2 linked regions of the Homo sapiens genome follow. The protein of the gene in region 1 interacts with the protein of each later gene in a pairwise test. Each region holds a gene or a part of one and is shown on either strand. Other genes may lie near its edges.

Region 1 (7,265 bases):
TGTGTATGAAAGGTGTTTTTTGGTTTTTGTTGCTGCTGCTTTTTTTTTTTTATTTTATTATTATTATTATTTTTGAGACAGAGTCTTGCTCTTATCACCCAGGCTGGAATGCAGTGGTGCAATCTAGCTCACTGCAACCTTCACCTTCCGGGTTCAAGCAATTCTCCTGTCTCAGCCTCCCAAGTAGCTGGGAATTACAGACATGCACCACCACACCTGGTTAATTTTTGTATCTTTAATAGAGATGGGGTTTTGCCATGTTGGCCAGGCTGGTCTTGAACTCCTGACCTCAAGTGATCTGCCCGCCTGGGCCTCCCAAAGTGCTGGGATTACAGGCATGAGCCACAACACCTGGCCCTGCTGCTTGGTTTTTTGTTTGTTTGTTTGTTTGTTTTTGAGATGGAGTCTCAAAAACAGCCTGTTGCCCAGGCTGGAGTGTAGTGGTGCGATCTCGGCTCACTGCAACCTCCGCCTCCGGGTTCAAGCAATTCTTCTGCCTCAGCCTCCCAAGTAGCTGAGACTACAGGCATGTGCCACCACACCCAGCTAATTTTTGTATTTTTAGTAGAGACGGGGTTTCACCGTGTTAGCCAGGGTGGTCTCAATCTCCTGACCTCGTGATCCGCCCACCTCGGCCTCCCACAGTGCTAGGATTACAGGCGTGAGCCACTGTGCCCGGCCCGGCTGCTTTTTTTTTAAGTCACAATCTTTAAACCTCAGTTTTCTCATTAATGGAGAAGGGTCAGGTGACCTCTGGGGGACCCAGGGAGTCCCTGATCCTCCCCCGCATGCTCTGGCCCTCAGTTCCTCATCCTCCCCATGGAACGGAAGATGAGTTTGCTGAAGCAGGATGATCAGCTGGCTGTGACCAGAAGTATCAAGGAGGGTGAGGTAAGGATGAGAGCCAGATGGGAGTTGCACTACACACTGTGAACCCAGAATATCTGAGACAGGTCCAGATCAATTTAGAGAGTTTATTTTGCCAAGGTTAAGGACGCGCACATGACACAGCCTCAGGAGGTCCTGAGGAAATGGGCCCAAAGTGGTTGGGGCACAGCTTGTTTTTTTTTTTTTTTTTTGAGACAGAGTTTCACATTTGTTGCAGAGGCTGGAGTGCAATGACGTGATCTCGGCTCACTGCAACCGCCACCTCCCGGGTTCAAGTGATTCTCCTGCCTCAGCCTCCCGAGTAGCTGGGATTATGGGCATGCACCACCACGCCCGGCTAATTCTGTATTTTTAGTAGAGAGGGAGTTTCATCCCTGTTGGCCAGGCTGGTCTCAAACTCCCGACCTCAGGTGATCCGCCCGCCTCAGCCTCCCAAAGTGCTGGGATTACAGGCGTGAGCCACCACGCCCAGCCTACAGCTTGGTTTTATACATTTTAAGGAGACACGAAACATCAATCAACACGTGTAAGATGTACACTGGTTCACCAGACGTAAAAATACAAAAAATTAGCCAGGCGTGGTGGCAGGCGCCTGTAGTCCCAGCTACTCGGGAGGGTGAGGCAGGAGAACGGCGTGAACCCGGGAAGTGGAGCTTGCACTAAGCTGAGATCACGCCACTGCACTCCAGCCTGGGCGACAGAGCAAGACTCCGTCTCAAAAAAAAAAAAAGATGTACATTGGTTCATTGGAAAAGGCAGGACAACTCGAGGCAGGGAGGGGGCTTCCAAGTCATAGGTAGATAAGAGACATGCTTTTAAGTTTCCGATTAGCCTTTCACTGAATACACAATTTACATGCTATGGGGGTTAGAAAAGTAGTCACTTATGCCTTACTCTGGCTTAGTGAAACAATAGAGCAGAGAAAGCCATCAGATATGCATTTATCTCACGTGAGCAGAGGGATGACTTTGAGTTCTGTCTGTCCTTTGTCCACAAGGAATTTCCTTGTGGGCAAATAGTGAGGGAGTTATATAGCTTTTTTTTCTCTTAGTAGCTACCTTGTTTAGGAATAAAATGGGAGGCAGCTTTGCCTGAGGCAGTTCCCAGCTTGACTTCCCTTTGGCTTAGTGATTTGGGGTCCCAAGATTTATTTTTCTTTCACAATGTCCTCTTCAGAACTCTGAGCGGGGACCAGATTAGATGAAGCCAGGAGTCCAGACTAACGATTCATTCATTAGGCTGGGCGCGGTGGCTCACGCCTGTAATCCCAGCTCTCAGAAGCAAGAGGCAGGAGGATAGCTTGAGCCTAGGAGTTCGAGACTTGCCTGGGCAATATAGCGAGACCCCGTTCTCCAGAAAAAGGAAAAAAAAAAAAGACAAGGATTCATTCATTAAAAACCATATGACCGGCTGAAGGCCAGGCGTGTGGTGACTCACGCCTGTAATTTCAGCACTTTGGGAGGCCAAGGCGGGCGGATCACTTGAGGTCAGGAGTGGAGACCAGCCTGGCCAATATGGTGAAATCCCCTCTAATAAAAATACAAAAATTAGCTGGGCGTAGTGTCGTGAGCCTGTAATCCCAGCTACTCAGGAGGCTGAGGCAGGAAAGTCGCTTGAACCTGGGAGCTGGAGGTTGCAGTGAGCTGAGATCGCACCACTGCACTCCAGTCTGGGCAACAGAGCAAGACCCTGTCTCAAAAAAAAAAAAAAAAAAGGCTCACGCCTGTAATCCCAACACTTTGGGAGGCAGAGGGGGCCTATCACCTCAGGTCAGGAGTTCAAGACTAGCCTGGCCAACATGGTGAAATCCGGTCTCTACTAAAATTACAAAATTTAGCCAGGCATGGTAGCCTGTAATCCCTGCTACTTGAAAGGCTGAGGCAGGAGATCGCTTGAACCAAGGAGGCGGAGGTTGCAGTGAGCTGAGACCACGCCATTGCACTCCAGCCTGGGTGACAAAAAGCGAAACTCTGTCTCAAAAAAAAACAAAACCGTATGCCCAACACCTGGCTTGCCCACCCTCCTGTCCCCTGCCCCTTCCTGGTTCCAGGACCCTGACCCAGATCAGTTCTGAACAGGAAGTGAAGACTGGAGTGACTTCTTTCCCCTGGAGCTCAATCAAGGGCTTCATCTCAGAGGCTGCCAACCTGGTGCTGCTCAGGGTGATGGCCTGGCGGCGGATGGTGCCCAGCAATGCCCGCTTCCTGACCTTGGACACCGAGGGCAAACTCTGCTATTTGACCTATGTAAGGGGTCCCCTTGGGCAGGGGACTTGGCTTGGGAGCGAACTAGAAAAGGCGTGAAAAGCACTGAGATGGGGAACAGCTGTGGAGTAGAAAAGGGAGGCAGGTGGGGAGAAAACAGCACAGGTGGGAATGGGGCTTTCAAGGGCAGGAAAGCATGTTTGTCTGGGAGTGTGGGGCAGATGAATTGAGAGTGACTGAGAAGTGGGAACAGTTCAGAGAAGCAACCCTTCCGCACAGAAGTCAGTCCAGGAAAAATAAATATAGTGCAGGGCTGATTTAAAAAATACATCATTTTGGGCCAGGTGTGGTGGCTCACGCCTGTAATCCCAGCACTTTGGGAGGCCAAGGCGGGCCGATCACAAGGTCAGGAGATCTAGACCATCCTGGCTAACATGGTGAAACCCCGCCTCTACTAAAAATACAAAAAAAAAAAATCAGCGGGGCGTGGTGGCAGGCGCCTGTAGTCCCAGCTACTCAGGACGCTGAGGCAGGAGAATGGCGTGAACCCGGGAGGCAGAGCTTGCAGTGAGCCGAGATCGCGCCACTGCACTCCCGCCTGGGTGACAGAGCGAGACTCTGTCTCAAAAAAAAAAAACAAAAAAAAAAAAACGTCATTTTGGCCAGGCGCAGTGATTCATGCCTGTAATCCCAGCACTTTGGGAGGCCAAGGTGGGCAGATCACTTGAAGTTAGGAGGTCAAGATCAGCCTGGCCAACATGGTGAAACCCTGTCTCTACTACAAATACAAAAATTATTAGCTGCGTGTGGTGGCAAGTGCCTGTAATCCCAGCTACTCGGGAGGCTGAGGCAGGAGAAGCATCACTTGAACCCAGGAGGCGGAGGTTGCAGTGAGCTGAGATCGCACAACTGCACTCCAGCCTGGGCAACAGAGGGAGACTCTGTCTCAAAAAAATAAATAAATAAAAATAAATCATTTTTTAACTTTAGGAAGTGTAACATGTCCAACTTTACTGAAATATTCCTTTATTATTTCTTAACCCCAAAGGGTGTTCCGTTTTTGTTTTGTTTTTTGTTTTTAACTAAAATTTCATAATCAGCATGCCTAGGACTTCCTGCAATCAGTGATTTTAAAGCCATGCCACTGAACACACAATTTCCAGTGAGACACTTTGGGGGCTGATTTGTGTTTCTTTGACCATCTTTGTAAATTACATTCCAGGCTTGTCTATCAAAACACACCAAGCAGCAATGCATTTGACATGAACAAGCACAATCCATTCCCCTCCGTGTTCTTTGAAACATGTGTTTAACATTAGCACTTTTTTCTCCATAGCTGCAGCTACAACAGGGGTTTAAGTTTTAATCACAACAGGGACAGCCTGCCAGCAACAGCACAGGTCTGAGGTGGCCACAAATCTGTCTGGTCTCACACCTCTGAGCCTCACTTTACCTCCACCCACTGGCCCTAGTAGCTCATCCTACCTCTCCGCTCCCACACCCCCCCGCATACCGCTTCTCATCCCTGTAACAGAATTTGCCAACTAGAAGCACCTGGTCAGCGAGATGACATGGGAGGGGTCAGGGCAAGGGCAACCTGGAGCTAGCTCCCTATGAGGGGTCGCCAACTCAGCTTGGAGGTTTGGAGATGCAATATTAAATGTCTTGAGGTTGTTATGAGATGGAGAAAAGGCTAAGGTAAGATGATGGGGAGCCCTTGGCGGGCATCCACCTTACCTCCCACCCCCCAATTTTGGCTGTTGCCAGCAAAACCTGGGCTTCCAGACCATCCAGGTAGACCATCAGCAGGCTGAAGTCTTCATCGTGGAGCAGACTGTCCACGCGGAGGAGGGCATCCCCATGTCCTGCCAGTACTACCTGCTCTCCGATGGGTGAGCTGCTGATGGTGGGCCCAGAGGGGTGGTGCTGAGCTTGTAGGTGCTCAAGGAGACCGGCTGCTTCTGGGGATAGCACCAGGAAGAACTGGCATTGAGATAGGAGTGTCCCTCCGCTTTATCCATATCATTCACTCTTTCTTCATTTATTTGCTCGTCCTCTTAACCCTCACAGTGCCTCCCAAACCTTCTCACTGCACACCACAGGCCTGGGGTGTAGCTAGTGCAGCCACCACTGTGTAAGGGATAATACTGAAAAACACCAAGGTCTGAATGACTGCACACTTGATGAAATCACTGTGCTGGAAGAATTGCCTGTGGCAGGCTGCCGTGCAGTCTCCAGCAAAGCACTGGCTCCAAATCATAAGAAAATTCAGGGCTGGGCGTGGTGGCTCACACCTGTAATCCCAGCACTTTGGGAGGCTGAGGCGGGCGGATCATGAGGTCAGGAAATTGAGACCATCCTGGCTGACACGGTGAAACCCCATCTCTACTAAAAATACAAAAAATTAGCCAAGTGTGGTCGTGGGCGCCTGTAGTCCCAGCTACTCTGGAGGCTGAGGCAGGAGGATGGCGTGAACCCAGGAGGCAGAGCTTGCAGTGAGCCGAGATCGCGCCACTGCACTCCAGCCTGGGTGACAGCAAGACTCCGTCTCAAAAAAAAAAAAGAAAGAAAAAGAAAATTCAGGTGGAAGAAAGAGTTTCTTTCTGTTTTTTTGTTTTGTTTTGTTTTTTTGAGACAGACTCCAGTCGAGTTTATTTCTTAAAATTTCAGAATAGATATTCACATAATCACTACACTGGGGAAAAGGTAATCAAAACATTGTTGGCTTTATCTCATAACTTAGTATGTTTTCGGTTTTGGTGCGATCATAGCCCACTGCAGCCTCCAACTCCTGGGCTCAAGCAATCCACCTGCTTCAGCCTTCCTAGTAGCTGGGACTACAGGTATGCACCACAGCTCCAGGCCAACCTTTTTATTTTGAATGCCGCATAGCAGGAGATTCCATAATTTTTCTTTTCTTTCTTTCTCCTTCCTTCCTTCCTCTTTCTCTCTTTCTCTCTCTCTGTCTCTTTCTTGACAGAGTCTCGCTCTGTCACCTAGACTGGAATGTGTGGCATAATCTTGGCTAACTGCAACCTCCGCCTCCCAGGTTCAAGTGATTCCCTTGCTTCAGCCTCCCAAGTAGCCGGGACTACAGGTGCCTGCCACCACGCCTGGCTAATTTTTGTATTTTTAGTAGAAACAGGCTTTCACCATGTTGGCCAGGCTGGTCTCAAACACCTGACCTGAAGTGATCTGCCCATCTTGGCCTCCTAAAGTGCTGGGATAACAGGCGTGAGCCACTACAAGTGTGAGCCACTGCGACAGGCCTCTTTCTCTTTTTGAGACAGTCTCGCTCTGTTACCCAGACTGGAGTACAGGGATGCAATCTTGGCTCACTACAACCTCCACCTCCCAGGTTCAAGTGATTCTCATGCCACAGCCACCAAAATAGCTGGGATTACAGGCGCCCACCACCACGTCTGGCTAGTTTTTTGTATTTTTAGTAGAGACGGCGTTTCACTATGTTGGCCAGGCTGGTCTCAAACTCCTGACCTCAAGTGATCCACCCATCTCAGCCTCCCAAAGTGCTAGGATTACAGGCGTGAGCCACCGTGCCTGGCCAAGAGGCTCCATGATTTTCGAGTGCTGTACCTCTAAAGATCCTTTTTGTTTTTTTTAAACAGGGGGCCTAATACTTGCCAAGCCCTGTGCGTTATTTGGAGATCCAGAAATGAACACCACCCAGGAACTTAATAAACAAGAGAGGGAGGCAGAAGTAAAGAGGCCCGGGACAGGTCTCTCAAGGGGCACTGTCATGTAGGAGTCTGCTTAGGCTGCCATAACAAAACACCACAGGCTGGGTGGCTTCAAGAGAAATATATTTGCTGGAAGGCAGGAAGTCCAAGATCATGGTGCCATCAGGGTTGGTTTCTGGTGAGGGCTGTCTTCCTAGCTTGCAGACAAGTGCCTTCTCAATGTGTCCTCACATGGCCTTTCTTCCGTGCATGAGTGAAGAGAAAGCTCTCTGGCATCACCCTTTTCTCATAAGGGCACTAATCCTATCTGATTCGGGCCCCACCCTTATGACTGCATGTAAACGTAATGACCTCCCCAAAGCCCCTACCTCCAAATACCACCACACTGGGGGTTAGAGAGACAATTCAGTCCATAGCAGGCGGTCTGGGAAGATTCTCACTCTCACATGTTGTGTTGCACTCCAGGCACCTGGCC
Region 2 (7,265 bases), on another chromosome or scaffold:
TGCCATAACCTGGGCCCATACACTTAAAAGTGTGTGTGCATTAGTGAGAGGGTGAGGGAGGGTGTGCACACACACACGTGCAGAGAAAAAGCACTTATTTACCAACCATGAATCTAAACCATGAATGGATTATAAATTTCAATGTGCTGCATTCTTTCCAAAGACATTTTGGAGAGTTCCACAAACAAATAAATACACAGAGAACAGGAGAAATTTCATAGTAAAAGCAAACGATGTGAAAAATATTTAACTACTTAAAAAGGAACTGAAGGGAGTAAAAGTTGACAGGGATTTCATGTTGCTGTAGTTCGAAGGAACCCCCCAAAGTTCCTAAGCTGGAAACTTATTGCCACTCTAACAGTATTAAGCGGAGGGCCTTTAAGAGGTGAACAGGTCACAGGGCCAGCCCTCAGGGAGGCAGGAATGCTGTAGCACAGGGCTGGGTTCCTGATAAAGGATGAGTCTGGAACAGGTCACAGGGCCAACCCTCAGGGAGGCGGGAATGCTGTATCGCAGGGCTGGGTTCCTGATAAAGGATGAGTCTGGAACAGGTCACAGGGCCAGCCCGCAGGGAGGCAGGAATGCTGTAGCGCAGGGCTGGGTTCCCGATAAAGGATGAGTCTAGCTCCATTTCTCTGTCTTGAGCTTGCTTCTGCCTGCACCATGCTTCTGCCTGTGCCATGGGAGGACCAGCACCAGGTGCCGGCACCGTGCTCTTGGACTTCCCAGCCTCCAGAACCATGAGCCACATAAGCTTCTGTTCTTTATAAATTACTCAGTCTGTGGTTTTCTGTTACAGCAACAGAAAACAGACTAAGACACGCGTAAGTACCTGGGTGTGGGGTGAAGTACGTGTGTGGCCTGGGGGCACGGGAGGCCTCTGGCTCCGCTCCGTACAGTGGCGGAAGCTCTCCACAGAGCTGGCTCCAAGGCATCTTCTCCAGACAGCACCCTCTGCAGCTGCTCCTCCTCGTCTCACGGCCCTGCTTCCCAGAGTCCCCACACTGGTACTGTACCAACTGCGGGCTCAACAGATGTCTGGATTCTATTAAAATATTGTAAATAAAATATTTCATAAAACATTGTAAAAGTTTTATTCCATCAAAAATTACATTTTAAGCTTCTGAATAGTGTATGGTATCTGTTAGACCGAGGGGTTAATCACGTGCTGGGTGACACTGAAATGAATCCACAGTGACTTCTAACAGCAAGAGAGCTTGGAACTGGGAACTGGCGCCACTCGCCTGCGAGACTCAGGACAAGGCTGCAAGAATCCAGCCGCATGAAGTGGAGCAAAGTCAGACAAAATGATGCACAAAACAGAAGAGAGAGTCCAGACAGTCTCAATACAAAATTAGCTGGGTGTGGTGGTGGGCGCCTGTAGTCCCAGCTACTTGGGAGGCTGAGGCAGGAGAATCACTTGAACCCGGGAGGCAAAGGCTGCAGCAAGCCAAGATTGCGCCACTGCACTCCAGCCTGGGCGGCAGAGCAAAACTCCATCTCAAAATAAACAAAACAAAAAACAAAATAAACTGTGCCCTTCATAAACTGGACTGTAATGAAATTAAAACTTGTGCTCTTCAAAGCACTGTTCAGATAATGAAAAGGCCAGCCACAGAAGGGAGGAAATGGGCAGCCCTTGTGCCTGAGAAAGGGCCTGTGTCAAAACCACCAAGATCTCTTAGGACTCAATACTAAGAGAAGCAACCCCAGAACAAAGGTGGGCAGACCTGGAGAGAAAAGAAGAGACAGGCACGGCCAGTATCTCAACAGCAGCGGATGCAAATTAAAGCCATAAACACAGACCACAACCCCCTGACAGAGCAGCTAGGATTAAAGGACTCAGCTCCCAGTGCCGGCAAGGACATGGCTCGAGCACCGCTGCCACAGGGCAGACATCTTTGCACAGATGAACCTAAGATTTCAGCCCAAACTCAGGTCTCCACCTGTTGTTTCCACGAAAAGTTCTCAGAAACTCACAGCGGAGGTGGAATAAATGAAGCTAAAGCCCATCAGCACATCCCAGTGGAGGGCAGTGCCACCGGGCAACGGAGTCTCCGAGACACCCTTGCTGGGATCTACAGGTCTGCACGTGGCGGCCTGAGCTCAGGGTTTCCTGCAAGTTCGGTGACTATGCCCCCCTGCAGCTGCCGCAGATGTCAGCCCCACTTGCCACAGGACACTAGGCTTCTTGTCTGTTTTAGACAGTTTGCCTTTTCCTGTGATCTCAGAAGGATACAATTTAAACCATCATGCAGTATGACTATACTCAAATATGTTAACTTTCTCATTTATAACTCTGTAGTCCAAATGGCTGGCATTCGAAAGCACACAAAGACACATCATGAAGATCCTATCCTTCAAGGTAAGTTCCACAAAAAGAGCAACTGTGGACTCCAAGCCCAGTAACGACTATATATATCCCAGAGCCAGCGGACCCACTGGCCTCCTGGCAGATGAGCAGCGCACCTTGGGAACCACGAGAGTCGGCCTCACGCCCCTTCTGGCTGAAGCTCGTGCTCCCGGGAGGCCTGCCGAGGTCCCACTCGCACTCTGCAATGAGGTTCAGGACTGCCTCGTCATCCGCATCCATGACCAGGCTCTGCTTGGCCAAGGCCTCGGTGCACTTGGCTCTGGGGTGGTGTGGTCTGTAAGGAAAAGCAAACTCATCAGCATCACTCAAGCCAGCCATATGCTCCGGCCCACGCAGACCAGGAGAAGGAAAATTCCTGCACGGTCTCTGAGAGAAGCAGCGTGCTGCAAACGTGGGGCAGCCGGGTCCTGTTGCTTCCACTGCAGTGATGCTAAAGAGTGACTCACCAAGGACAATCGGTGAGCAACAGCCAGGTTACGTGATAACATGACAGCATCCCGGCACTGGACAGAACCCCACCAGGACTGGGCCAAATCCCAGCACTGGACAGAACCCCACCAGGACTGGGCCAAACCCCGGCACTGAACAGAACCCCACCAGGACTGGTCTAAATCCCGGCACTGGACAGCACCCCACCAGGACTGGGTCAAATCCAGCACTGGACAGAACCCCACCAGGACGGGACTAAATCCTGGCACTGGACAGAACCCCACCAGGACTGGGCCAAATCCCGGCACTGAACAGAACCCCACCAGGACTGGTCTAAATCCCGGAACTGGACAGCACCCCACCAGGACTGGGTCAAATCCAGCACTGGACAGAACCCCACCAGGACTGGTCTAAATCCCGGCACTGGACAGAACCCCACCAGGACTGGGCCAAATCCCGGCACTGGACAGAACCCCACCAGGACTGGTCTAAATCCCGGCACTGGACAGCACCCCACCAGGACTGGGTCAAATCCCGGCACTGGACAGAACCCCACCAGGACTGGTCTAAATCCCGGCACTGGACAGAACCCCACCAGGACTGGGCCAAATCCCGGCACTGGACAGAACCCCACCAGGACTGGTCTAAATCCCGGCACTGGACAGAACCCCACCAGAACTGGTCCAAATCCCGGCACTGGACAGAACCCCACCAGAACTGGTCCAAATCCCGGCACTGGACAGAACCCCACCAGGACTGGTCCAAATCCCGGCGCTGGACAGAACCCCACCAGGACTGGGCCAAATCCCGGCGCTGGACAGAACCCCACCAGGACTGGGTCAAATCCCGGCACTGGATAGAACCCCACCAGGACTGGGCCAAATCCCGGCACTGGATAGAACCCCACCAGGACTGGGTCAAATCCCGGCACTGGACAGAACCCCACCAGGACTGGTCTAAATCCCGGCACTGGACAGAACCCCACCAGGACTGGGCCAAATCCCGGCACTGGACAGAACCCCACCAGGACTGGGTCAAATCCCGGCACTGGACAGAACCCCACCAGGACTGGGCCAAATCCCGGCGCTGGACAGAACCCCACCAGGACTGGGCCAAATCCCGGCGCTGGACAGAACCCCACCAGGACTGGGCCAAATCCCGGCACTGGACAGAACCCCACCAGGACTGGGTCAAATCCCAGCACTGGACAGAACCCCACCAGGACTGGTCTAAATCCCGGCACTGGACAGCACCCCACCAGGACTGGGTCAAATCCCGACACTGGACAGAACCCCACCAGGACTGGGTCAAATCCCAGCACTGGACAGAACCCCACCAGGACTGGTCTAAATCCCGGCACTGGACAGCACCCCACCAGGACTGGGTCAAATCCCGACACTGGACAGAACCCCACCAGGACTGGTCCAAATCCCGGCGCTGGACAGAACCCCACCAGGACTGGGCCAAATCCCGGCGCTGGACAGAACCCCACCAGGACTGGTCTAAATCCCGGCACTGGACAGAACCCCACCAGGACTGGGCCAAATCCCGGCACTGGACAGAACCCCACTAGGACTGGGTCAAATCCCAGCACTGGACAGAACCCCACCAGGACTGGGCCAAATCCCGGCGCTGGACAGAACCCCACCAGGACTGGGCCAAATCCCGGCGCTGGACAGAACCCCACCAGGACTGGGCCAAATCCCGGCACTGGACAGAACCCCACCAGGACTGGGTCAAATCCAGCACTGGACAGAACCCCACCAGGACTGGTCTAAATCCCGGCACTGGACAGAACCCCACCAGGACTGGGCCAAATCCCGGCACTGGACAGAACCCCACCAGGACTGGTCTAAATCCCGGCACTGGACAGCACCCCACCAGGACTGGGTCAAATCCAGCACTGGACAGAACCCCACCAGGACTGGTCTAAATCCCGGCACTGGACAGAACCCCACCAGGACTGGGCCAAATCCCGGCACTGGACAGAACCCCACCAGGACTGGTCCAAATCCCGGCACTGGACAGAACCCCACCAGAACTGGTCCAAATCCCGGCACTGGACAGAACCCCACCAGGACTGGTCCAAATCCCGGCGCTGGACAGAACCCCACCAGGACTGGTCCAAATCCCGGCGCTGGACAGAACCCCACCAGGACTGGTCCAAATCCCGGCGCTGGACAGAACCCCACCAGGACTGGGCCAAATCCCGGCGCTGGACAGAACCCCACCAGGACTGGGTCAAATCCCGGCACTGGATAGAACCCCACCAGGACTGGGCCAAATCCCGGCACTGGACAGAACCCCACCAGGACTGGGTCAAATCCCGGCACTGGACAGAACCCCACCAGGACTGGTCTAAATCCCGGCACTGGACAGAACCCCACCAGGACTGGGCCAAATCCCGGCACTGGACAGAACCCCACCAGGACTGGGTCAAATCCCGGCACTGGACAGAACCCCACCAGGACTGGGCCAAATCCCGGCGCTGGACAGAACCCCACCAGGACTGGGCCAAATCCCGGCGCTGGACAGAACCCCACCAGGACTGGGCCAAATCCCGGCGCTGGACAGAACCCCACCAGGACTGGGTCAAATCCAGCACTGGACAGAACCCCACCAGGACTGGGTCAAATCCCGGCACTGGACAGAACCCCACCAGGACTGGGCCAAATCCCGGCACTGGACAGAACCCCACCAGGACTGGTCTAAATCCCGGCACTGGACAGAACCCCACCAGGACTGGGTCAAATCCCGGCACTGGACAGAACCCCACCAGGACTGGGCCAAATCCCGGCACTGGATAGAACCCCACCAGGACTGGGTCAAATCCCGGCACTGGACAGAACCCCACCAGGACTGGTCTAAATCCCGGCACTGGACAGAACCCCACCAGGACTGGGCCAAATCCCGGCACTGGACAGAACCCCACCAGGACTGGGTCAAATCCCGGCACTGGACAGAACCCCACCAGGACTGGGCCAAATCCCGGCGCTGGACAGAACCCCACCAGGACTGGGCCAAATCCCGGCGCTGGACAGAACCCCACCAGGACTGGGCCAAATCCCGGCACTGGACAGAACCCCACCAGGACTGGGTCAAATCCCGGCACTGGACAGAACCCCACCAGGACTGGGCCAAATCCCGGCACTGGACAGAACCCCACCAGGACTGGGTCAAATCCCGGCACTGGACAGAACCCCACCAGGACTTGGGTCAAATCCCGGCACTGGACAGAACCCCACCAGGACTGGGCCAAATCCCGGCACTGGACAGAACCCCACCAGGACTGGGTCAAATCCCGGCACTGGACAGAACCCCACCAGGACTGGGCCAAATCCCGGCGCTGGACAGAACCCCACCAGGACTGGGCCAAATCCCGGCGCTGGACAGAACCCCACCAGGACTGGGCCAAATCCCGGCGCTGGACAGAACCCCACCAGGACTGGGCCAAATCCCGGCACTGGACAGAACCCCACCAGGACTGGGTCAAATCCCAGCACTGGACAGAACCCCACCAGGACTGGTCTAAATCCCGGCACTGGACAGCACCCCACCAGGACTGGGTCAAATCCCGACACTGGACAGAACCCCACCAGGACTGGGTCAAATCCCAGCACTGGACAGAACCCCACCAGGACTGGTCTAAATCCCGGCACTGGACAGCACCCCACCAGGACTGGGTCAAATCCCGACACTGGACAGAACCCCACCAGGACTGGGCCAAATCCCGGCGCTGGACAGAACCCCACCAGGACTGGGCCAAATCCCGGCGCTGGACAGAACCCCACCAGGACTGGGCCAAATCCCGGCACTGGACAGAACCCCACCAGGACTGGGCCAAATCCCGGCACTGGACAGAACCCCACCAGGACTGAGTCAAATCCCGGCACTGGACAGAACCCCACCAGGACTGGGCCAAATCCCGGCACTGGACAGAACCCCACCAGGACTGGGTCAAATCCCGGCACTGGACAGAACCCCACCAGGACTGGGCCAAATCCCGGCACTGGACAGAACCCCACCAGGACTGGGCCAAATCCCGGCACTGGACAGAACCCCACCAGGACTGGTCCAAATCCCGGCACTGGACAGAACCCCACCAGGACTGGTCCAAATCCCGGCACTGGACAGAACCCCACCAGGACTGGGTCAAATCCCGGCACTGGACAGAATCCCACCAGGACTGGTCCAAATCCCGGCACTGGACAGAACCCCACTAGGATTGGTTCAAAAATTAAAGTTCTGGAAGATTCTGTTCTGCTATGTGATTACACTTTTCCTAGCACATCCACAAGGAGATACACGTGATCAAGAAAGTTAAGTGTTCCAAATGTTCACTTTCACATTCAGGGAGAATGTTTTCATAATGGCTGAAATCAGAGGTGTGTCAGAATATGACCCACCTTAGCATGGTGACCCTCTATACAGAGAAGAATGTGCTCAAAGGGGACCTTGTTTC

The links.
Region 2: the proteins of CATIP (region 1) and CEP72 interact in binary tests that used the Homo sapiens proteins (3 or more experiments, as listed by UniProt).

The regions. Positions count from the first base shown.
Region 1 is NC_000002.12:218,359,769-218,367,033, forward strand, and holds part of CATIP (ciliogenesis-associated TTC17-interacting protein), read left to right. Parts: intron 1-804; coding exon 805-891; intron 892-2,966; coding exon 2,967-3,134; intron 3,135-4,859; coding exon 4,860-4,984; intron 4,985-6,896; exon of another isoform or gene 6,897-7,030; intron 7,031-7,158; exon of another isoform or gene 7,159-7,255; coding exon 7,256-7,265. UniProt on the Homo sapiens protein: Plays a role in primary ciliogenesis by modulating actin polymerization.
Region 2 is NC_000005.10:629,152-636,416, reverse strand, and holds part of CEP72 (centrosomal protein of 72 kDa), read right to left. Parts: intron 2,649-7,265; coding exon 2,470-2,648; intron 1,046-2,469; coding exon 833-1,045; intron 1-832. UniProt on the Homo sapiens protein: Involved in the recruitment of key centrosomal proteins to the centrosome.